Linked DNA regions of Homo sapiens: region 2 is linked to region 1. The links come from fine-mapping of genetic effects on gene expression. A gene starts in region 1. The other region holds a variant in brackets. All regions are shown on one strand. Distances are from middle to middle.

Region 1 (12,536 bases):
CCCCTCTAGACTATGTTCCTACCACTCCTTCCTCTGTTGCCAGATGCTTTAGCCCTTTTCCCATCTGTAGCTACCCCAAAAGAGCAGAAACTGGGAAACTTCTAGGGCCTTGCCAATGTCATCTTGGGGTACTTTTGCCAGAGCCACACAGAAATATGCTAACCTTGACTGTCAGCTGTCAGGGCAGCTTTAGAGCTCATTTAGTTCTCTCAGTGTAAAATGGAGAGGCTGTATCTCCCAGAGAAGTCATGCAGAGAGATGAGGGTGGAGTCAGGACCAAATTTCAGGCCCAGACTCCTGGCTACCAGCATGTGCCAAAGTACAGCAGCTGGACCTCCCTGAGGTGCCAAATGATTTTAGGTGGAATGTGGAAACATTTTAATACTAGTACTTCTGTCTTATTCTAATTTATATTAAGAGAAAAATATAACTAGTACTTTATTCCTTAGGATGGGGGTGTTTTTAAGAGTTTGTTTGTTTATTTATTTATTTATCAGTAGAGATGGAGGTCTCATCCTGTTGCCCAGCCTGGAAGAGTCTTTTCAAATGATCTATTAAGTTACAGTACAGGGGATACATGCAAACCTCAAAACCTGTGTAAGGGGAAGGCAAATACTGGATCTTGGGAACCACTGTAATCTACTTTGTGTCTAGTCTATTTCCTATATCCATTGATGGTTCCTGCCCTGGCTGTGCTTTCCTGTTGTCTCTCTTTGATGCTGGATTCTCTGTACCCTGCTCCCACACTGCCTCCTGCTGGCTTTCCTCAGATATCAAGGACCAAGTAGTCACATTTCCCCTACCATGCATTGGTGTCGCTTCTTCACTGAAGAAAACACCTAGGGACTGACCACTCCTCCCCTCCACCAGATCTACCCAACCCAGTGTGTTCTGAGGCTTCAGGGTAAGGCAGTTAGTGAAATTTTTCTCTCCAAATCCTGGAAGGTAAGGGTTGTGGTTAGAAGTTCCCCACCTAAGCATGTGCTCCAGGTGTCAAAAATTGACAGGCAGGACTGATATATGGCCTTGTGGTCTCCAACCCCATACCTTTAACTCCCAACATTGCCTTTCTCTTGCCACACCCTCCCTCTCCATTTCTGTTACTGCCTGGGTGTCTTAGGCCACAGACCCCAGTTACTATTGCATGGGGAATGGCTGAACCCAATTGCATTACAAGTTTGGGCCTCCCCTGAGAATTTGGTGTCTTTGGCTTGTGAGTACTCACTTCTTGGGGGTGGGATCTCTCCAAGATGAGTCACTATGATTGTGTAGAGCATTCCCAAATCAGTCTTTTTGGTTAGAACAACTCTTTAAATCACCTAGCTTGACCATCATTCAATACTTACATCTCGGCCAGGCGTGGTCGCTCACACCTGTAATACCAGCACTTTGGGAAGCTGAGGTGGACAGATCACCTGAGGTCAGGAGTTCAAAACCAGCTTGACTAACATGGTGAAACCCCATCTCTACTAAAAATACAAAATTAGCTGGGCGTGGTGGCGCATTCCTGTAATCCCAGCTACTTGGGAGGCTGTGGCAGAAGAATGGATCACTTGAACCTGGGAGGTGGAGGTTGCAGTGAGACGAGATCTTGCCACCGTACTCCAGCCTGGGTGACAGAGTGAGACTCTGTCTCAAAAAAAAAAAGAAAAAGAATCTGTGATCCAAAAAAGAGTCTCTAAAGGGAGAGCAAATCCTGAAATGGAAACAGTATGAGGACAAAGTTAAGCAGGTTTGAGACTGGTCCAGCCAGCTTTTGTGAGCAGGATCTTTCCCTGCCTTCTGGACCTTACATCTGGGTGTCAAGCCAGAGGATTTTCCTTCTTCATTTTATAGCCAATCCTTTGGGCCTTTCAGACAGTTTCTGGGAAGATGGACTGAGTTTTTGCTATCTTCCTATGTTTCCCCTTTTTCTTTTGAAAATAGGCAGGAGTAAATATATATGAAGCAATCTTGATAGCTACCTCTGTGGCTTCAGAGTTACTCTTCTGTTATGACACTCCATGGGGTCTGGCAAGTATTCTGTTGTAATGGAATTTGGCATAATGCATATACTTCTTCATTTTTCAGAAAAACGTGATTGATGAGGCAGAGAAATAGTTCCTTTCCTCTGTGATGAAATTATCAAGTTAAAAAATTATTGAAATGATTAGGGCAAAGTTTCCTAATTCTCTTGCATTCTCTGTTTAATTTCCCAACATAGACCCCTGCCCCACCATCAGATAGCACAGATTAATTTTTAAGATTAATATGAATTCAACTGAATCTTCTTCGGAGACTTTTAAAAAGAGAGTTTAGGGACCACATTTATGTAGCCTAGATTGTCCTGAAGTCAGAATTCAAGAGTAGAAGTCTTTTGTCATGTAGGAAAGGCAAGGCTGTGAATGTGAAGGTGACGGGTATTCTGGGGTGGCCTGCTCAAGGGAAGAGAATGCGTCTTTAAGAGACAGATGGCTGAGTGCTAGCCATAGCACTGGCCCTAACTTGCCACGTAACTTCAATCAAGCTGTTGTCTCTGAGTCTCATCTGTACAGTGGGAATAATGATGCCTGCTTTCCATATTTCATAGAGTTGTTGAGAGGCTCAAAGGAAAATACATATGAAGAATGTTTTGTAGGCAAGAAGATGCTATCTCTGCTCTCATGTCTTTTAATTTTCTATAATTTTTTATTTTTTAAGACAGAGTCACGCTGTGTTTCCCAGGCTGGTCTCAAACTCCTGGGCTAAAGTGATCCTCGGCCTCCCAGTGTTGGGATCATAGGTGTGAGCCACCATGCCTGGCCTAAGTATTTATTAATTTGCTTAAAGGTAACAGTAAGCCCATCACATGTTAACATAAATAATTTTTTTTTTTTTTGAGACAGAGTCTCACTCTATGGCCTAGGCTGGAGTACAGTGGTACAATCTTGGCTCACTGCAACCTCCGGCTCCCAGGTTCAAGCAATTCTTGTGCCTCAGCCTCCCGAGTAGCTGGGATTACAGGTGCCCGCCACCATATGACCTCAGGTGTTCTACCCACCATGGCCTCCCAAAGTGCAGGGATTACAGGCGTGAGCTACTGCTCCTGGCCAAAATATATATATATATATATATTTATTTAATTTTTTTTTTTTTGAGATGGGGTCTTGGTCTGTTGCCCAGGCTGGAATGCAGTGGCATGATCATAGCTCACTACAGCCTCCATCTCCCAGGCTCAAGCAGTCCTCCCACCTCATCCTCCTGAGTAGCTGGAACTACCTGTGCCCACTGCCATATCTGGCTAATTTATTTTTAGTAGAGATGAGGTGTTGCTATGTTGTCCAGGCTTGGTCTCAAACTTCCTAAGCTCAAGCGATCTTCCCACCTTGGCTTCCCAAAGTGCTGGGATAACAGGCATGAGCCACTGTGCCTGGCTGATAAAATATTTTTAAGGAAAAGTAATTATTTTTCCAAACAAAATTTCTTGAGAAGAGTAGCATTGTTTTTAATTTTCATAAATCTTTTGAATGTCTGGCATAATAGAAGACTGTGAAATACTCATATCTGCTTTTGCATTCAGTCTGTTTCAATGTTATTTTGGTTGAAGAATATGAAGAAAATTCAGCCTCCCACAGATGTGTATTTGGAAAAAGGGAGAAATATATTCATAACTTTTTCAGATAATTGTGGATATTCTTTGATGCTATCAAAACTCTGCTAAAGGTTAGTTGCAATGTGGAACCTCAAAGTATATTAGTGAACTTTTTATATTCCATTAATATTTATTGGTTTATTTTGCACTTTTTTTTTTTCTTTTTAGGGATGGGGGTCTCGCTATATTGCCCAGGCTAGTCTCGAACTCCTGGGCTCAAGTGATCCACCTGCCTCAGCCTTTCAAAGTGCCAGGATTACAGGCGTGAGCCACTGCACCTGGCCTTATTTTGCACTTTGAATGGATCTTTTACTAATGTGTGATTTTGTAGTGTCATGCATTGGTCATTTGGAAAACACTGCACATCTCCTAAATGTTGACACATTATACAGTATCAAAAAATCATATTTATTTATTTTTATTTTTATTTTATTTTATTTTATTTTTTGAGATGGAGTCTCGTTCTGTCGCCCAGGCTGGAGTGCAGTGGCACCATCTCGGCTCACTGCAAGCTCCGCCTCCCAGGTTCAAGCAATTCTCCTGCCTCAGCCTCCCGGGTAGCTGGGACTAAGGCACATGCCGCCATACCCAGCTAATTTTTTTTGTATTTTGAGTAGAGATGGGGTTTCACTGTGTTGCGCAGGCTGGTCTTGAACTCCTGAGCTCAGGCAATCCGCTCACCTCGGCCTCCCAAAGTGCCAGGATTACAGGCATGAGCCACCGTGCCCGGACTTATTTTAGTTTTGTGAGACAGAGTCTTGCTCTGTTGCCCAGGCTGGAGGGCAGTGCCATGATCTCGGCTCACTGCAACCTCTGCCTCCCTGGTTCAAGCAATTCTTGTGTCTCAGCCTCCTGAGTAGCTGGTATTACAGGCATGCGCCACCATGCCCAGCTAATTTTTTTATTTTTAGTAGAGATGGGGTTTCGCCATGTTGGCCAGACTGGTCTCGAACTCCTGGCCTGAAATGATTTGCCCACCTTGACCTCCCAAAGTGTTGGGATTACAGGCATGAGCCACCGTGCCTGGCCCACTACCAGTCTTATTAGAAAAAGTCATGGGAAGCTATCAAACTTACATTGGGAGATACAAGTCAGTTGTTAGAAATTCTGTTTGACTTAAATGCTTGAGTTTTATCAGGCCGGGTGCGGTGGCTCACGCCTGTAATCCTAGCACTTTGGGAAGCTGAGGCGGGCAGACTGCCTGAGCTCAGGAGTTCAAGACCAGCCTGGGCAACATGGCGAAACCCTGTCTCTACTAAAATACAAAAAATTAGCTGGGCGTTAGTGGCGTGTGCCTGTGGTGCCAGCTACTCAGGAGGCTGAGGCAGGAGAATTGCTTGAACCTGGGAGGCAGAGGTTGCAGTGAGCTGAGATCACGCCACTCCACTCCAGCCTGGGTAACAGAGTGAGACTCCGTCTCCAAAAATAAAAATAAAGGCTTGAGTTTTATCATAACCGACAATGCTATCAGGCTCTACTTTATTTTTAAGAACATGTCTGCCAAATATCCAGTGAACAACTAGTCTGTTAGCTGTTCTTTCAAATAAAAACGGTGTTCCATGAAGAAAGCTATTAATTCAGCTCCAAACTCAAATTGCAAGAGTGCTTTTCCTCAAGACAAATGTTGTACTTAAAAGTGCTTGATGCATACATACATGCATTTAATCACATAAACGTGTACTTAAATAAAACAATTTTTATTGTCTTCATCAAAGACCTCTTAAATGAAACAGGTGGTTTTTTTTTTTTTTTTTTTTGAGACAGTGTCGCACTCTGTTGCCTAGGCTGGAGTGCAGTGGTGCGATCTCGGCTCACTGAAACCTCTGCCTCCCAGGTTCAAGTGATTCTCCTGCCTCAGCTTCCCGAGTAGCTGGGATTACAGGTGCGTGCCACCACGCCCAGCTAATTTCTGTATTTTTAGTAGAGAGAGGGGTTTCACCATGTTGGCCAGGCTGGTCTCGAATTCCTGACCTCAAGTGATCCACCTGCCTTGGCCTCCCAAAGTGTTGGGATTACAGGTGTGAGCCACTGCACCCATCCGGCCTGAAACAGGTGTTTTTTTACTGTAGCAGTGAAGAATACCTTGACCTCTAGCACAACTTGGTGCAGTTGCCTTGATTTGTGCTAAGGCAGCAGTTTTACCCATTGCTACTTTTGTATCATTGTGCAAATATCATCACAGTGACAATGCAGATATGTCTCAGTATTATTAGGAAAATCGTTTTGATCTCAGGCACCCCACTATCCCCCCAGCCCAAAGGGTCTCAGAGATCCCTAGGCCTTTCCAGGCGACACTTTTTTTTTTTTTTTTTTTTTTTTGAGATGGAGTCTCACTCCGTTGCCAGGCTGGAGTGCTGTGGCACGATCTCAGCTCACTGCAACCTCCAACTCCCTGGTTCAAGCAATTCTCCTGCCTCAGCCTCCTGAGTAGCTGGGATTACAGGCACACGCCACCACGTCCGGATAATTTTTGTATTTTTAGTAGAGACGGAGTTTCACCATGTTGGCCAGGCTGGTCTTGATCTCCTGACCTCATGATCCACCTGCCTTGGCCTCCCAAAGTGCTGGGATTACAGGCGTGAGCCACCGTGCCCGGCCTCCAGGCCACATTTTTGAGAACACTGATCTAATACATGCTCACATCACTGAGAAACTTTTCCTCCTGTATTGCTATTCTGGGAGCATCCCTTCCATTGGAAGTTTTAAGTGGCTCCCAAATTCTTCACTCAGCAAAAGCACCTTGTTATGGAACTAACATTGAATAAGTAACAATCTTTCTTCTCCAAGAATTTTCTTGGGGATTGTTGAGTAAGGGAATAAGACATATAATTAGAGTTATAATGTTAAGAATTCCTTAAAAAGAATTATGTTAACTGTGATGGACGACAAAGGGAGAGCTAAATTCTGAATCTAACTCTGAGGCCTTGAACCTCATGATAAATCCCGACCAAACCAAATTGAAACACTCCACTTCCTCTCCTTCTATCAAACCTCTTTTAAAAGTGCAAGTTGTTAATAAATTGCCTACACAGCGCTTGGTCCAGGCATTGTAGTTTCCCCCTTCCTATTGTGTGTGGTGTTCTTTTTTTTTTTTTTGTGCTTACCTAGTTCTCCTGTTTACAGGTGTGTAACTTGAGCCACTACTATAGCTAATGTCTGTTTCTTTTACTTGTCCTTATATTTAAATGTAAGTCTTTATCTGCCTTAGCTATGTGTTGGGTGTTGAAATTGTTGATCTTATTTTGGGAGACTCCCATCCCCTCCCCCCACTACCACCCCGCAAGTAGTTTCAAGACAGTGCACCTAGGAGACTGCTTAACCTAAGCCTTTTGTAGCTTAGGTGCTGTTCTGTTTCCCAATGGACCACTACCAAGTCAGTCTGGTTTATTTCCCAAGCCTTACAATCTGCTGAACTTCTTCAGTTCCGGCAGCGATCCTCTAACTTGTGGGGGATTTCCATAAAACAGCTGAATCTCTCTTGGGTCATCTGTGGCAAAAGCCAGACACGTGCTCACCCGCCTGGGAGCCAATAGTAACTTTTGCAAACGCTGCCTCCGGAAACCCCACGGTTTGAGGGCTGCTGCTTTAGGAACAACACAGAAATAACGTCTTTTAACAGAATAAAACAAAACATACGGACGGGATAGTGAGAAAGCCTTTGTCCTTCGCAGTGGGGAGAGGTGTTAAAGGTGAACCGAAAAGAGTATGGGAAACTCATGTAAAATACCTTTACAGTTCCCCGGGAAGAAGGGGGCGGAGATGGGCTCGGGAGCGTCTCTGGCCCTTTAAGGAGGAGGGACAGACATAAGAGTCTGTACCTTTAAGAGTCTCTTTGTCTGGAAACCTTCTTATTTACCCTCCTGTGCTTCAACCAAACTTCGACCAGCTATTCACAACGTCCCCCTACGCCGCCGCCCCTTACGCCAGGCTCAAAGCGGCCGCGCGTTTGTGGCTGACCCTAAACTTTGCGCCTGCGGCGCGAACCCTCGGAACGGGTGCCGGTGCCGGGGTCGCGGCCCAGCGCTGCGCCGTTGGCGCAATGCAGGGCCTGAGGGGCGGGGCTCCAGCGGGCGGGCCAATAGACGGGCAGGGGGCGGGGCCGTGTTCGGTTGTCTCGCGCCCTGGTGACAGCTCGCGCGTGCTGATGATGGCGGTAAATAGAGGGGGCCGGGGGAGGGGACGGAGGAGGTGGGGAGGCAGCAAAGTGGGTAGCTCCAGGGGGTAGGGGGAACGGGGGCCGGGGAGGCCGCGACGGCCAGGGAGCCCATTCTAAGACTCGGAGGCGGGGATAGGAGTCTCCGGCTCACTAGCCCTCCCCTTTAAAGAAGCAAAATCCTCACACACCGGGTGAGGGGCGACAAAGGCAGCGCGCGCCTCGCGGGCGGGAGGAGCGGCGGCAGGGGGCGGGACCGCGGCGCCGGCGGGCTGGGGGCGCCCGGGGCGGGGGCGGCGGGAGGCGAGAGCCGGGAGTCGGGGCGCGCGGGCGCCTTATTTTGGCGGGGTGGGCGACGGCTGGGTTGGGGCAAAAGCGTTGAAGGGAGAGGGAAAGGAAGGCTTGGAGGCGATGAGGGGAACCGGGTTGAGAATGAGATGAGGAGGATTAAGGGGAGAAAGGGTTAGAAGCCAGGGAGAGGAGGAGTGAGAAAAAGCCAGCCAAGGAGATAGGAAGGAGGCAAAAGCCAGGGTGGGCGTTAAGGAAGCCGGGCAGGGAATGAGGTTAGGGCTGGGGAAAGGGATCCTGGGGTTAGGTGTAAGAGCAGGGGTTTGAAGGGGAAATCTTCGTAGCGGGTGGTGTTGGGGTGAGGGGTACCGGGGTAAGTGTTGGAAGTGGAAGACAAGGAGGGGCAGAGCTGGGGTAATAGTTGGGAGTAGGAAAGAGAGAGTGATTAAGAGCCAGACGTGACGAGGGTGTGAACTAGTGCGGAGCGAGATGAGCTGAAGGACTGGGACCAACGGTGTGGTGGGAACTGCTGGCGAGGTTCTGAGAAAGGAATGGGTTAGTGGGTGGGCGATGGATGTAAATTCTGTAAAGTGAGGGAGGGCAAATGAGACCTGGACTGGAACCAGGTGGAGTCAGGAATAAGAGTGTGGTGGAAGGGCGAAAGGAAACAGATAAGAGATGGGTGTCTGTAGGACGATTCTGGGACCAGAAGAGCTGAAAGGAGACTAGAGTTAGGGTGTAAGAAGTGATGGCCATCTGGGACAAGGATAACTGGGTAATTACGTTAATTGAAGAGGTTCAGCAAGATCCAAGGTGAAAACAGTGAGGTAAAGAGACAGGGCTAAAAGCAAATGGTGAGAGGAGCAGGAAGAGATGGGCCCCAGAATTTAAAGGATGAGATGGGGAGTAAGGGAAGAGAGGGGGCTAAGAGAAGCTGGGGGAGTCCTGATGGATGTAGAACTGGGGTAGACTGCAGGGGGGTGGGAATCGAATGTGCGTGTTATGGGGAGTTGCTCCAGAAGGTCTGCAAGGGTCAGGGCAGAAATGCTGTAGTGAAAGATCAAGTGTAAGAGAGCCTTTGGTGCAGAAGACGAGGAACCATGGTGAGTGAAAGGGGACCTAGAGACAGGGGTAAAGACTAAAAAGTAAGGGCAGAGGTGGGGGGTGCAGGAAAGGAATTCTTTGTTGAGGAGAGAACTGTGTGTTGAAACTGTGAATCCTTTTGTCCCTAAAAGTAGGAAATTCCAGAAACCTCTTTCTCTCAAGAAATCTTGAATCTGCTTCCACCCTTCATTGCTTTTGATTTGACTTTCCTGTCCACTTTGAAGAAATGAGACTCATTTTGATTTGATTTTTTTCTTGTATGGATGATAAAGTATAAACTCTGGGTGTTGAAAACCTCTGCATTTCACTAGTGTTGTGATAATTCGGGGAAAGGGTGTGCTTATTTAGGGTGTACTCGTGTGATGTGATAGTTTTAGTGTTGTAGGAGTGTTGCACCTGACAAGTGCTGGGCTGTGTTTTATGGACAGCATTTTCATTTTCAATGGAGAACGCACTGTTGTTGGGATAGAGAAAGATGAGAATCTGTTTCTTTTGATTAATCAACCAGATTTCTGCTTATTGTTTTCAGTTGCTGGAGAATGTTAAGAAATCATTTCAGAGAAAGGCAGATAACCAACCAAGGAAGTTTACTGGGGGAGAGATTAAATCAGAGCTGAGGGCTTTGAGTTCCTGAGCTGCCTTTAGCTTTGTGCGGGACGTTTCATGCTGTAGTTGGTAACTCACCCATTTAACAAAATGGCATAAAGAAAGGGAGAATTGTAGAGTAGTGGAGGATTTTAGAGTAGCAGACTTATTTTTTAGGGCAAATAAATTTATGAGTAATTTTGATGGAAAAACATCTCTGTAAGATAATACTGCAGCAAGCTTGGTCTTTGGACAGCTCCACTGCCTTTCGTGTTTTATGGTTATGAATAAAGAAGGCCAGATTAATACTAATTTTCTAGAAGCTTTTGATTTTTAAGACACCTTTAGAAATGAAAAGGAAGATAAGAAATTTGGGGCAAAATTTGGTTATTCTTACTTAGAATTTTGTTTTAATGATTTTTTTCAGAAGCTTTTACATTTAGCTAAGAATATGAATGAATATTTGTTTTGCATTTGATGGTGCCAAAGGATAGCATATGATTTACTTAGGGAAAAATTCAAACAATTGTTGAGAATCTTCTTTGGGGTTATTTCATTGTGTACACTCAGATGCACAAAGATACTTTTTTTTTCAAAGTTGGGTAAATTTTGGATTGACACTTTTGCTGGTGTTTGTATAAATAACAAAGATTAGGTTTATGACTTTTGTAGTAGTTAACAAAGATTAGATTTTGATTTGTGGATTTGAGCAACAATGGTTAATGTATAATTTAGAAAACTCTTTCTGCATTCAGCTACTGTGTTAGTGGCATAGTATTTAGTTTATGGTTTGTTTCCTGGATTGTATTAAGCAAGTGTTCAAGGTTACTAGATGTATTTAGCAATTTAACAGAGGATCTTGGTAAAAATTACTATTTTTGCCACTACATTTTAAAAGGATTAGTTTGATAATGTTGACTTTCAAGATGAAGAATAACTTTGATATGAGGCACTTGTTTCAGTGAGATGTGTGTGCATATTCTTTTTATAGATGTGTTTGGGCTGGCGTTAGTAGTAGGACGTACTCTGTATGGTATTGCCATGTTTATAATGTAATTGTAATTGTTTAATGCTCAATATCTTTATATAAGTGATTATAGACTTATTTGATATTGGTAAAGAAGGAAATATAAACTGTAAGATCAGCCAAGGGAAAGAGTGAGTCCTGCCTTTTGTTTCTGTATGCAACGGCCTTAGTGTGCTAAACCACTGAGTCTCATTGTCAATGGTTATTTCTCAGTCGCTATTTCTAAAACTGAAAATGGATTTTTAAAAATTGAGATAATACTATTTATCAATAAGGACTCCAATGATAAATTTAAGCTTTATTTTCATTTGTTCATCAAGTACAGTTCTACCCAATTTAACTTTATTTTGGTTATAATCTTATTTGCTAAGCAAAAGCTTTTAAGTTTATATTTTTAGATTTATTAGGCTGTACATAATTAAATGTTTTCCTGGTTAACCGTAGATTCTTTGGATGGGAAGAGACCTTGAAAGGACCTCTAGTTTATCCTGCAACTCCAGTCAATATCCCACTTAAATCATTCCAGGTAGATAAAAATTTATCCTATTTTTTAAAACAAATCTTCAGCAGTAATGTGGTAACCTCTGTAGATAATCTTTGCAAGCATTTAATAATTTCTCTATCAGGAGAGTCTGCCTTCTCTCCAACCAGCACATGTTTAATGCTATATATGTGTTTGTTTCCTCTTGCCCCATTCTCAATTTTTGAGTAAAAAATACCTGTGTACTTTTGTATTTATAAGACCTTAGTTCTTCATAAACTTAATAATAGTAGCCAACACACATATAATGCTTTTGTGCCAGATACTTCTGTAAGCACTGCAAATTGTAACTTGTTTACTCCTCAATGGCAATCCTGTGAGGTAGGTACTATTACTATTCTCATTTTACAGGTGATGAAATAGAGGGTCCTTGAGATTAAATGATTTGCCCAAGGTTATACTCAGACATTCCTACAACTATTTATTTGGTAATTATCTTATATTACAAATAATACTATGTTTTGTAACCCAGTGATACATTTAATCTTTATTTTAGTTCAAAAGCTAGAATTCTACCAAGTGGTGGGATGGGATTCCAGCCTTTGCATTTTGCCAGCAGAGTCTGTGCTCTGGTTTTGCCTCTGGCTTGCCTGTTGTGAAGTTCTCCCTCACCAAGTTCTTCTTCAGATTCAACACTTAACAAGTCTTGTTTGCCAATCTTTAAAAATTATCCCTGTAGTCCTGTTACTAACCTTTTATCCAGTTCCTTTCTAGATGAGGAACCTGGGGTAAACACCGTAACGATTATGTATAATGTAAAGATTACATCAAGGTTGTTGCATGCTTCTATTTTTTCATTCCAAAATTGTATTTACAAAACAAACCCAAACCAGTAAAAAATGCCTTATTGCATTGCAGATTCCCCATCCACCTTTTTAGCTAGAAAACTGCCCTGGACTTGTTATATACTATGACACATTTATAGTTGAAAGATTATTGCTGTTTGAAGAAAAATGGATTTTTTCTGATTTCAGATTTCAGTGCAAATATCCATAAGCAAAATCTGTTTATACCCTCACTAATTTTTTAGTATTTTCTCTTTATGTGTGCCTAAGTGATATACCAATTTCCCCATATATTATTATTATGATTATTATGATTATTATTGAGACAGAATCTTGCTCTTTTGCCCAGGCGAATGCAGTGGCGCCACGTCAGCTCACTGCAGCCTGGACCTCTCTGGGACTACAGATGTGTGCCATCACACCTGGTTAATTTTTGTATTTTT
Region 2 (12,536 bases), 39 kb before region 1:
GGACTCGCGAGCCCGCACTCCCGCCCTGCCTGTTCGCTGCCCGAGTATGGAGCTGCTGTGTTGCGAAGGCACCCGGCACGCGCCCCGGGCCGGGCCGGACCCGCGGCTGCTGGGGGACCAGCGTGTCCTGCAGAGCCTGCTCCGCCTGGAGGAGCGCTACGTACCCCGCGCCTCCTACTTCCAGTGCGTGCAGCGGGAGATCAAGCCGCACATGCGGAAGATGCTGGCTTACTGGATGCTGGAGGTACCGCCCGGACGCGTCCCCCTCCCCCACCGCTCCCGGGTCTGGACACACCGGGGCCGCCCTGTCGGGACATCCCGGTCCCCACAGCAATCTGCAGGATGCTCCGAGGCTAAGACTCCCGGGGCCTGGCCTTTCACTAGGGCACCCACGCCAGCTGCCTCCCTTGCTTTCCCGAGCCCTAATCGGCTCCTCCCGACAGTGACTGCCAGTCACTTGGCACCCTAACTGTGCCTCTCTTCGGGCCGAGCAAACGGGACCAAGGACACTCTCTCCCCTTCGGCTTCTCACAGCGTCTCCCGCTTCCCTCCGCCTCCCGGCCTTCTCCGGAGAGCGCGCCTGGAAAACCCTGGGCTCGGCCGCCCCCGCCCGGGAGCCGGTTCCTGTGTCTTTCGCGGGGTTCTGGCGGGGAAGGCGATGGGGGTGGCGCGCGCCCTGTTCCGGCCGACAGGGAAATGAAAAGTGCAGGAGGCAGCGGCAGGAGCCTCCTCCCTTCCCCTCGGGTGTGTGCAGTGGTGGCGGTGATGGGGGTGAGGTCCCAGCTCTCTGGCTACCATGGGTGACCCTTGCGTCCCACTTCCCCTCGCTGTGGGGGAGGGGAGTCTCCGTTTGGAATCCTCCGTGAGCAAGGGCTCCTTGGCTTTACCACTCCCCCGTCAAGGGGAGAGGGGAGGAGGCCGCGCAGAGGAAGTGGGGGGCGTCACCTTGGGGAGGGCGCATCCTCCTCCTTTATTGGTCCTTGTCTCTCTAAGTAGCTTACCCTCTCTGCCGTTTTTGCTCCCTATCCCACCTCACTTCAGCGCTCCCACCCCCCCGCTGCTGTGTTCCCCACGCTCCAGACCCAGCAGTGACTGTGCGCCCTCCCCCAGGTATGTGAGGAGCAGCGCTGTGAGGAGGAAGTCTTCCCCCTGGCCATGAACTACCTGGATCGCTACCTGTCTTGCGTCCCCACCCGAAAGGCGCAGTTGCAGCTCCTGGGTGCGGTCTGCATGCTGCTGGCCTCCAAGCTGCGCGAGACCACGCCCCTGACCATCGAAAAACTGTGCATCTACACCGACCACGCTGTCTCTCCCCGCCAGTTGCGGGTGCGTGTGTAACTCCCCCCACCCCCGACACGTATTGTCTCCCCACTTTCCAGGAAAAGGAAAGCTTGAGATATCAGAGGCTTTCTGCCCCCTGGAGAGGAAGCAAGGGGATCAGGACCTTTGGGAAAGGAATTGGGGTGGAACAAACGATGGGGCATTGTGGTGTGATGGTTAGTATCACTCCCGCCCAGGCTTGAGCTGCAGGCAGGCATTAAACCCCCTCCTCCTGACCTCCAGGGGATGCCACTCCTTCCTGGTCTTTCCCCCAGATAGCAACAAGTCAAATTGCATGTCTACACTCACTAGTACTTTGCCTCTGGGTTTACGCAGCCACCATGAGTTATTTATTGGCAGCAGAAGGGCATGCCTGCACACCCCCACTGGAGTAGGGGAGTGGAATGTGCTTCATGTGGGGGAGGGGGTTTTGCCTTGGTTGAGTCTTTATCCTCATGTGGACTTTGTGATAGAAAAGCCTCCCAGAGCCAATTAAAGCCAGGCCCTGATTGCTTTAAGGAAGGGCTGATGTATTTCATCCCACCTTCTTTGCTTCCTCTTATATCCCGGAAGAAACAGCTTCTTCCTAATCCTTCCTCGTCCTCATTCTGAGGAACTGGAGCAGCTGCTTTGGGCCTGGTGGAAACAGCTCCCTCTTCCCCCCTTAGCCCAAGGCCCAAGCTGAGGGACAGACAGGGAGGTGAGCTGCATCTGCTTCCGATGTGATAATGGTGCCCCCTCCCCTGGCCCGCCCTCTCTGACCAAGGTCTTTCATAACCCTGTGGGGAGCTGCTGTCACTCCTGTGGTTTGGGAAGTGGCTCCCTGGGCCTCTTGCTGGAAACTTGGGCTGGGCTCAGGCCGGGCAGGAAAGTCACCGGTTCTGTCCCGCCTCAGAAGGAGCCTGGGGAGGAGGCGGGGGAGCTGCTGGATCTGGAAGAGGTTATTTAGGACATGCAGATTGTCTCCTAGGGAGGCTGGGGGAGAGGGTGGGTGAGCTGGCACCTTCCTCCACCTTGCTCTGTGGCGGGCCAAGTCTTCTGCTGACCCTGAGAGGAGTCTCTGGGCCCCATCTCCCAGGGAGGAGGGCAGCAAGCAGGCTGCTGTGATTGGCTGGCAGGGAAGCCAGGGTACTGGGGCCCCCGACTGCTGTGAGTCGAGGAACAGGATTCCTCTTCCTGCCAAGTAGCTCAGAGATGGGAGTAGGAGGCCAGAGTTGGGAATCCAGGAGGCGCCACAGCTCTTTGTGATGAATCTGGTAGTTTTTGGCAAGTCTGAAGGTGGAGCTAGTTTCCAGGGCCAGAGAGCAAGATGTTTTTGGAGGGGTTGGGGCTGGAAGGTAGAAGGGGAACTTCCTTTTTGTGAAAAGATGGAGGTGGTTTGTGTGCCCACGTATGAGGGTTTTTCAGTACAGGCAAAAAGTACTCTTCCCTCTGCCTGAGCTGGGGGTGGAGTGCCCAAAAGACTTCCTAGAAGGTCAAGGTTGGAAGGGACCTCTGAGAACTCCAGTTGGTCCAAATCCGTGTGCAGCAGAGGAGGCTGAGGCCCAAGGAAGGAGGGCAAGGTCCTGCCTCAGCATCGCACTGAGCAGATGAGTGTAGAACCTGGGTCTTCTAGCTAGACCAGGTTGCCTTAAAAGTCAGGAATGTGATGGCCGCTGCCACCTACTGAAGCTAAGCACTCCCAGGGGTGTGTTCTCCACCAGTTAACACTGGGATTCTCTGGTTGCCTGGATATGGGGAAAGGTGGCCACTTTCCCTCAAACACAACCCCTTGCCTCCCCATAGGGAGAGTCCCACTCCCAGTTGCCTTCCAGATGCTTCCTTAGAAGCTGAGTCCCTTCTGTTTACTGCTGAGTTAGGAGTTGGCTCCTGGGACATGCACTAGGGGTAGCGTTGTAATTTATCTGTCTCACTTCTGGCTCCAGGCCAGGCTATTTTCTCTGGGGCTCTGTGAGGGTAGGGGTTGATTTGAGAGGCTGACACCTAAGCTGGGGCCAAGAGAGAGACAGCTGTGGCTGGGGCCTGGAAGAGGTTGGGTGGGGTTGCCATTTCTGCCTCAATAAGGAGTCAAACCCACAAGTTCCTTCCTGAGATAAAACAATGAAGAAATCCTCATGTGTGCAACTCAGAAATGGGGCCAGGTCTGGGAACCCATGACGAGTGGACTGGGGTGGAGCTCCCAGCCTTCTCCCGAGACCTAGTACTGGCAGGTAGGCTTGGGTAGGTGAGGATAGGGCTTGATCCCTCTGGAATCATTTGGAGCCATCCTGTCTGGCTTGGCCTCTACCTATCCTCCTGAAAGTCAAGTGGCATGGGGCACTACGGGTTCCAGCTAAAGGGGGTGGGGTGGGGTGCTATACCTCAGGACCCATCCCTGATATCCTACCAAGGGGATGTGGCTTGGGTTGGGCAATCTCCCCTTTGAGGAACCTGAGAAAAGGCTCTGTGGCTGTCATTGGAGGAGTCATACTCCCTTCTGTTGATTCAAGAAGTGTGGACTTGGCTGGGATGCAGAGTTGCAGGGGAAGCTAGTGGTGATCTCCCCTTTCACAAATCCTTGGGGTTGAGAGAGTCTTTCTGCTTCATCCCAGAAGAGAGCCCAGTTCATGGTGATGCTGTGGTATCTGCTGCTTCCGTCTTTCAGCCCTGGCTGGAGAAATCCTCAGAGCCCTGAATGAAGTCAGGAGAAGGCCTGGATTATTGGCCCCTTAAACATAACCAGACAGGATTAAAAGGGATAATCCATGTAAAGCATGTTGTCCTGGCACCTAGTAAATGATCAGTAAGTGCTCAAAGCACATGCCTCCTCCTCTTCCCTGCCTTGAACTCCATGGTGCCCGGCCTTAAAATCAGAAACAGAACTGGGGTCTTGGGCTTTAAAAGTTTGATGGGCTTCCCTGCCTGAGACTTTGAGACTTCTGCTTTGCTCCCTCCTCTTCACTTCTCCAGCCACTGACCCCACCCTTTCCCCGCTTTTTCAGGACTGGGAGGTGCTGGTCCTAGGGAAGCTCAAGTGGGACCTGGCTGCTGTGATTGCACATGATTTCCTGGCCTTCATTCTGCACCGGCTCTCTCTGCCCCGTGACCGACAGGCCTTGGTCAAAAAGCATGCCCAGACCTTTTTGGCCCTCTGTGCTACAGGTAAGAGCCCTATGCACATTTTTGCCAAATTGGAAAAATCAGAAGACTTATAAGGGTGAGAGGTAACTGAAGATTCTGGTTTATACTGTCAAAATTCCTTTGTGAAAATTATACCCCCTCTGAGCCCCCAGTCTCAATGCAGAAAAGCAGGTTATAATCAGCTATATGGGATCTCAGACCCCTCCAGTTTGTAGTGGGGACACTGAGGGTATAGAGAGAAGTGACTTGCCCAAGGTCTCACAGTGAACAGGTTGGGAACAGAACCCCAGTCTCTTGGCCCTAGTTGTGTTCCCATACTAGGGAGTGTCTTGTCTATTCCCGGGACCTATGGAAACTGGCAGTTGGTTCTGATCTCTAGGAAAGATACTCTTTCCTGTCTTCCTCCCTTGCTGATATCTTGCCCCACCCACTGCTGGAGTTTTCCAGCATGTCCTCTGCTCTACTCATGCTGCCTGGCACTTTCCAAGGAGTCGGAAGTCCATGCTGGCCGTTATCCTTCAGGTTTCCTTCTCTCATGGTTCCCTTTCCTCCTCTCCAAGATTATACCTTTGCCATGTACCCGCCATCCATGATCGCCACGGGCAGCATTGGGGCTGCAGTGCAAGGCCTGGGTGCCTGCTCCATGTCCGGGGATGAGCTCACAGAGCTGCTGGCAGGGATCACTGGCACTGAAGTGGTGAGTGCTGGGTAGCTGGGCAGCAGCCTCTCCATTCATAAAGTAGTGCTATGCCCTGAGCCTCCAGTAGAGGGAAACCTCCAACCCCAACCTGGTCCCAAGTCCTGGTTTCACAACCTTGGGGCTTTGTGGCTTTTTATCTCCTGCCTTGGTCTGGGGAAGAGCAAGTATCTTGGGTGGGGTGAAGGGCACTGGCCCTAGGGGTTCTTTTCTTGCCAAGTGGTGTGCTGGAGTGGGGGTGGGGGGTTTGGTGTCAGATGCAGGGCTGCTCTCACACTCCCTTGCCACATCCTCTTGCTAGTTTCTGAGAACTAAAGAGCGATTCCTGGGGCCGGGCTGTGGCCTAACCTCCCCAGACTTCCCCATGTGTTGGGAGCTGTCCTTCCCCTGCACCTGCTGCCAGATGCTATGGGGGGAGTGTTTGCTCCTCACTCTTCTCCCATGTTCCCAGGACTGCCTGCGGGCCTGTCAGGAGCAGATCGAAGCTGCACTCAGGGA[G/T]AGCCTCAGGGAAGCCTCTCAGACCAGCTCCAGCCCAGCGCCCAAAGCCCCCCGGGGCTCCAGCAGCCAAGGGCCCAGCCAGACCAGCACTCCTACAGATGTCACAGCCATACACCTGTAGCCCTGGAGAGGCCCTCTGGAGTGGCCACTAAGCAGAGGAGGGGCCGCTGCCACCCACCTCCCTGCCTCCAGGAACCACACCACATCTAAGCCTGAAGGGGCGTCTGTTCCCCCTTCACAAAGCCCAAGGGATCTGGTCCTACCCATCCCCGCAGTGTGCACTAAGGGGCCCGGCCAGCCATGTCTGCATTTCGGTGGCTAGTCAAGCTCCTCCTCCCTGCATCTGACCAGCAGCGCCTTTCCCAACTCTAGCTGGGGGTGGGCCAGGCTGATGGGACAGAATTGGATACATACACCAGCATTCCTTTTGAACGCCCCCCCCCACCCCTGGGGGCTCTCATGTTTTCAACTGCCAAAATGCTCTAGTGCCTTCTAAAGGTGTTGTCCCTTCTAGGGTTATTGCATTTGGATTGGGGTCCCTCTAAAATTTAATGCATGATAGACACATATGAGGGGGAATAGTCTAGATGGCTCCTCTCAGTACTTTGGAGGCCCCTATGTAGTCCGTGCTGACAGCTGCTCCTAGAGGGAGGGGCCTAGGCCTCAGCCAGAGAAGCTATAAATTCCTCTTTGCTTTGCTTTCTGCTCAGCTTCTCCTGTGTGATTGACAGCTTTGCTGCTGAAGGCTCATTTTAATTTATTAATTGCTTTGAGCACAACTTTAAGAGGACATAATGGGGTCCTGGCCATCCCACAAGTGGTGGTAACCCTGGTGGTTGCTGTTTTCCTCCCTTCTGCTACTGGCAAAAGGATCTTTGTGGCCAAGGAGCTGCTATAGCCTGGGGTGGGGTCATGCCCTCCTCTCCCATTGTCCCTCTGCCCCATCCTCCAGCAGGGAAAATGCAGCAGGGATGCCCTGGAGGTGGCTGAGCCCCTGTCTAGAGAGGGAGGCAAGCCCTGTTGACACAGGTCTTTCCTAAGGCTGCAAGGTTTAGGCTGGTGGCCCAGGACCATCATCCTACTGTAATAAAGATGATTGTGAAATAAAACTGGCTTTGGCTTCTTGGATTGGTGTGTGGGTAAGTCTATTTCTGCACTGTATGAGGTAAGGAGGTGGAAGTCAATGGTCTAAAGCAGGGATCATTGAGCCTTTTCTGTAAAGGGCTGGATATTTAGGCTTTGTGGGGTACATGGTCTCTGACCCAAATATAGTCAGTTCTGCTTTATAATGTGACCTATGCGTTCCTAAAAATCACTATGCCATGCAAAATTGCACAATAAAGACCACAGGTCTCATGGGAAAAATGGGGCTTGAAGCACAACACTCAAATGAGTGACACATTTAAAAAAAAAGGATAGCTTGGTTTTTACATATGTCAAATGGTTGAGAAATTATATCACAATAAATATGGCCTTTTATCTTGAAGACATGCACTTTGCTTTTGGAAGTGGACGTCGGAAGGGTTGCTCAACACAGGTGGGGAGATGAGTGAGGTAGCTGGTACATGTTTAGGTGTGAGTTTTGTGTACTACTTAGGCTTGGTTCAGCTAGATACAGTTTCCCATATTCACCTACTATTTCTCGAGGATGAAATCACACACAAGCAAACATGAAGTCTGCGTTATGATCAAACTGTTCCCAAATATATTAAATGGGTTGGAACAAATGCGCAATTTCGAAAGCAAATAACAAGGGTTATAGCAGGATTATACTTAAACTCTGCTGTTGTAGCACAAAACCAGCCACAGAAAACATGTAAATGGGTGAGCATGGCTGTTCCAACAAAACTATTTATGGATGCTGAAACTGGAATTTCATGTAATTCCTACCTATCACAAAATACTGTTTTAATTTTTTCCCCATTTAAAAATGGAAAAATCATTCTTAGCTCATGGGCCACACAAAAATGGGCACTTGGGCTGGGTGCAGTGGCTCATGCCTGTAATCCCAGCACTTTGGGAGGCCGAGGCGGGTGGATCACCTGAGGTCAGGAGTTTGAGACCAGCCTGGCCAACCTGGTGAAACCCCTTCTCCACCCCGTCTCTACTAAAAATACAAAAATTAGCCAGGCGTGGTGGCACGCACCTGTAGTCCCAGCTACTCAGGAGGCTGAGGCAGGAGAATCTCTTGAACCATGGAGGCGGAGGTTGCAGCGAGCCGAGATCATGCCACTGTACTCCAGCCTGGGCGACAGAGCGAGACTCCGTCTCAAAAAACAAATCAACAAAAAAAGGGGCACCTGGCCCTAGTTTACTAGTCACTAGTCTAAAGCTTTCATTGGCTGAAAAGCCAGAAAGGGAGCCTGTTTGATGCTAGCTCTGATCTAACCATTCTTGGGCCCAGCCTTATTCTCTGGCCTTTTTTTTTTTTTTTTGAGACAGTCTTGCTCCGTGGCCCAGGCTGGAGTGTAGTGGCCCCAATCCTGGATCACCGCAACCTCCACCTCCCAGGTTGAAGCGATTCTCCTGCCTCAGCCTCCCAAGTAGCTGGGATTACAAGCACACGCCACCACACCCAGCTAATTTTTGTATTTTTAGTAGAGAAGGGGTTTCACCATGTTGGCCAGGCTGGTCTCGAACTCCTGAACTCAGGTAATCCACCTACCTCAGCCTCCCAAAGTGCTGGGATTACAGGCGTGAGCCACCAAGCCCAGCCTCTCTGGCCTTTCTTGACTCTTATCTCTGCTTTCCCCAAGGAGTTTTCTCTTGTAGTCCTTTCATCCACTGCTGAGACACGACCATCTTTGGACAACCTGCTCCTGGCTGCTGTAGCCTGTGATGGGGGAAGGCAGAGGATGTGTCCCCTGGGGGCTAACAAGGTGAGTGCAGCCTGGAGAAACAAGCTTGGAGATCAAGGGAGGTGGGTCCTATATAAACAGGACAAGAATGTCCTCCGTCCTCCAAATACTAACAGGAGTAATGCCTACCTCCATTGACTACACCAAACACAGAGGTTCAATAAATATCTGTCTTTGCCTTTATCCACAGTGACCTGACACAATAGCCATAGAAAAAGTACTCACACCAAGCCCCAGCTGGGGACTGGGAATGCTAGCATATGGTATCTCAAGTTGGCTCTCAGAACTAAACAGGGATAAGGGCCTAGAATGGAAGAGGGAACCAGCCAGACCCTCAGTCCTTCCTGTCCTGGACTGGGAGCCACAGATGTCCCTGTGATCTGTCACTGCCCTGATCTGGGTCTTCAGCCATTAAAGCTCAGTGTCATCTTCAGTCACCAACGGGGGTCTTGGTGTCCTTCCAAACCCCTTTGGCCAGGACAGCTGACTGTTTTCCTCACTCCACGGTGATGGGAACATCTTCCACATCGCGGGGGACTGCACTCTGAAGCTCACGCCTGATTTCGGGCGATAGCTGTGGATGGGGCTGCAGCCGGAGCAGTTCTAAGAGGGCCTCTTTCTGGTCTGTGGCCAAGTCGGCCTTGTAGCGCTGGACCAAAGTCAGGAGGCACTGGTGCCACAGCACAGGCAGTTCACGCTTCTCTGTCCGGAACCCCAGGAAGTGGAAGACTAGGGCATCCAGCACCCGGTAAGGCAGTGCATACTTCTTATCCAGCAGCAGTCGCAGGAAGATGCTGTTGGCACCGCTGTATTCCATCTCAGCAATTTTCAGCATGGCCGCACTAGTGGGAAAGGGAGGTGGGGTAGAGTAAGCAGGGAAAACATTGGAAGAAGGATCCTACTTCTCCCTCTATGCTTTCCCCTTTTTTTCTTCCCCTCTGCTGGCCCTTACACTATGGTATTCCCCAGGGACCTTCTCACCTACACAATCATATTATACTCCCTTGACCTCAGTCACCATCTCTACAGGGATCCACCCAAATCTCTATCTCTAGCATAGACTGCTTGTTTCAGTAACCAACTAGAGTATGGTCCAAACATCTCAACGTCTCCACCCTAACTACTTTCTTCCTGTGTTTCCTACTCATTTGTTTATCTATTTACTGAGAACTTACTTTATGCCAGGCACTCGGGCCCTGTTGTTGCACAACTTACATTGAGGGGGATAATGATACACCTACTCATTGGCTTAAACAAGCACAAACCCAAGGCTTTCCTTAGCTCCTTCTCCACTCTGCCCATTCCCAAGTCCTGGCAATTCCACTATCTGGATATCCACTGACCAGCCCCCTTCCACCCCCAGCAATACTACCTGGAGTGCAACACAGGGATGGAGCACTTGGTGATGATGCTACCCACAATGATGGCTTCCCGGAGGGTACAAGTGCCAGACTCGCACAGTGGAATCAGGATCCCTAGGGAGAGTCAAAGGGCAGCCACTGTGAGCCCAGGATGAGAAAAAGGAGTTACAGCAGGAAGCATTCCCACCCAGCCCAGGGACAGCTAGCAATTTCCCACACCAGGCCTGCTGTGTTCCCCATAGAAGCTCCAGCCCTTCCCTTTCTTCCGTGCCTCTGGGATCCCACCTTTGAACCAGGCTCCAGGTTTGAAAAGGGCCTTCTTGAGAGCCATGTAGAGATGGAAGTTGAGTCGTTTGTATTCAGCAACGTCATCTCGTACTCGAGGGAGCAGGACAAGGTTGTAGAAGCGCTGGGCCATGCGTTCCTTCAGGTTAGAGGCAAAAATCCTAGTGGGAGTTAAGCGGGGGAAGTTTCCAACTCACACGACAGTCTGGACCCGGCCCATTAAATATCACCATGGATAGTGCATACAAGAGGTTTTAAAGTAAAATATGGGACCTTTCTTTCAGTGGGGGATGTGTGGGAGCTGTGTGCATGCAACACCCATCAGCTTAGAGAGAGAATAGGAGGGGCAATGAGATATACCCAAATGAGGAGCACCGTTTGTCTGTGGGAGAGCCAGAGCTCGTGCAAACTGATGGCTACTCAGCATCAGTTGAGTAGCCCTGAGCATGCCTGGGCAGTCACAGACTTCTGAGGGTCCTGCTACAGGGTTGTATCCCAGTGGCTATAAAAGCCTCTCCCCTAGAAATTCATCACAGAGGGTTGTATCCCAGTAGCTATAAAAGCCTCTCCCCTAGAAATTCATCACGGAGGGTTCCTAACTGGCTAACTGGGTCTTGGCCCCAAAAAATGACACAGGAAAAGCTAGAAAAATGATGCTATAAAGTAGCACAGAGAGGGCCCTGGGGCAAAGCTCAAATGCCCTGGGGCCAGAGGCAAGGAAAGCCTGTCCGTCCCAAACTCAGCCTGCACCTATAAACCCAAGGCCCCCGAACCCCCAGCTACTCTACCTGGTGGCCTGGTACATGGCAGCTGCAGTCCAGGCCTCCGGCTCTGTGACGTAGAGGATTTGCTCCCAGTTGGAGAGTGCAGGGATGATCTTAAATGCCTTGGGCAGTTTTCCACTGCGGTACTTAGATAATACCTAGGGATGAGGGAGGTAAAACAATCATCGTCATCCACATATGGCAAGCTTGCTGTGGGCTAGGAACTTGTCTGGGTGCTTTTAATATATTAACTCATTGCATCCCCACAATAACCTATAAGGAGGTGCCATTATTATGCTCATTTTACAGATGACCAGTGAGAGTTCCAGTAACCGACCCAAGGATGCCAAGTCATTTACAGGCAGAGCAGGAATCTGAACCCACACACTCTGCCTCTTAGGTCTGTTTTCTACTCCCATGACTTCTTTAGTATGTGATGCAGGCAAAAGGCAAAAAAGCCTGTGGCAGGAGCCCACAGCCCCCAAAGGGGTCTTCCACCATGGCTCCCCTCTCAGCTCTTACCTCCCGGACCCCCCTGTACACTTCTAGGACCCGGGGGTCCAGCTGGGGCATAGGGAAGCCCGACACCTCTGACATGACTGTCTCAACCTCTGTCTGCTTCTCAGTCAGCTTCTCCATGATGATGTCAGCCAGGGTGCGCCTAAGAGGGGAAGTGCCAAGAGGAGGGGAGAGAGGGGGCAAGGAGCACTGTGGTCACTGTCCAGGAAGCTCCAGACTCCCCACAGTCCCCTGTGAGCACCGCCATACTGCGATCCTGCTGGGATATGCAGCTTAGAGTTCTCTCTCTGTGCCCATTCATCCACCACAGACAGAATCACTGCAGGGTGCAAAGGAACTGAAAGTCATTCCATTTAGGACAAAGCTAGCAGTTGTACGGAGGTTATTATGAACCTCAACTCTGAAGTCAGTCTGCCCAGGTTCAAATCCTGGCTCACCCACTCCCTGGTATGATCTTGGGCATGTTACTTTACCTCTCTATGCCTCTGTTTCCTCATTTGTAAAATAGGGATAATAACGGTACCCACCTTAAAAGATTAATGGAAGGATTAAATAAGTTAATGTCTGTTCATTACTTGGAATGGTCAGTACACAGTAAGCGTTATCTATGGAAATATTTCTAAGACTGATTATATTCTTTTCAGCCTCCTTAAACAGTATTGTTGGGTGTATCAAACATAATCTTATCTTAATGATTCAGAATTACCATCGCCTTGAGCTGTCATATAATACTAGCATCTTCAGAGGCTGCTGAAGTGTATTTATTTATTTTTTTTGAGAGAGAGTCTACCTCTGTTGCCCAGGTTGGCATGCAGTGGCACCATCATGGCTCACTGCAGCCTCTATCTCTCTGGCTCAAGCGATCTTCCCGCCTCAGTCTCTCGAGTAGCTGGGACCACAGGAACATAGTACAAGGCCCAGCTAGTTTTTTATTCTTCTGTAGAGATGGGGTCTCCCCATGTTGCCCAGGCTGGTCTCACACTCCTGGGCTCCTGCCTTGGCGTCCCAAAGTGCTAAGATTACAGGTCTGGGCCACCATGCCCAGACTGAAATGTATTTAAAGCTGCTTCTCAGTTGGGCGCAGTGGCTCACGCTTGTAATCCCAGTACTTTGG

What was found. PIP is the estimated chance that this variant, and not a neighbour inherited with it, causes the effect.
Region 2: its variant is fine-mapped to the expression of USP49 in whole blood (TOPMed, PIP above 0.99).

Annotation. Positions count from the first base shown.
Region 1 is chr6:41,890,551-41,903,086 of GRCh38, reverse strand. USP49 (ubiquitin specific peptidase 49) reads left to right here and starts at 7,712. Exons shown (of 8, transcript NM_001286554.2): 1 at 7,712-7,763; 2 at 11,212-11,293. RefSeq lists enhancers at 7,315-7,504, 8,439-8,953 and silencers at 7,554-7,846, 7,635-7,874.
Region 2 is chr6:41,929,160-41,941,695 of GRCh38, reverse strand. It overlaps BYSL (bystin like), which reads right to left. Exons shown (of 7, transcript NM_004053.4): 3 at 11,426-11,564; 4 at 10,928-11,061; 5 at 10,140-10,300; 6 at 9,866-9,968; 7 at 8,650-9,335. The coding sequence ends at 8,990. CCND3 (cyclin D3) reads left to right here. Exons shown (of 5, transcript NM_001760.5): 1 at 1-244; 2 at 1,111-1,326; 3 at 4,302-4,461; 4 at 5,001-5,137; 5 at 5,589-6,744. The coding sequence starts at 47. The coding sequence ends at 5,756. Among named protein-coding and RNA genes, the nearest start is that of CCND3, 6.4 kb to the left of the region's middle. RefSeq lists a silencer at 1-189 and enhancers at 1-657, 700-829, 1,911-2,205, 1,786-2,601, 2,602-3,417. The variant G/T (reference allele first, on the strand shown) is at 5,636.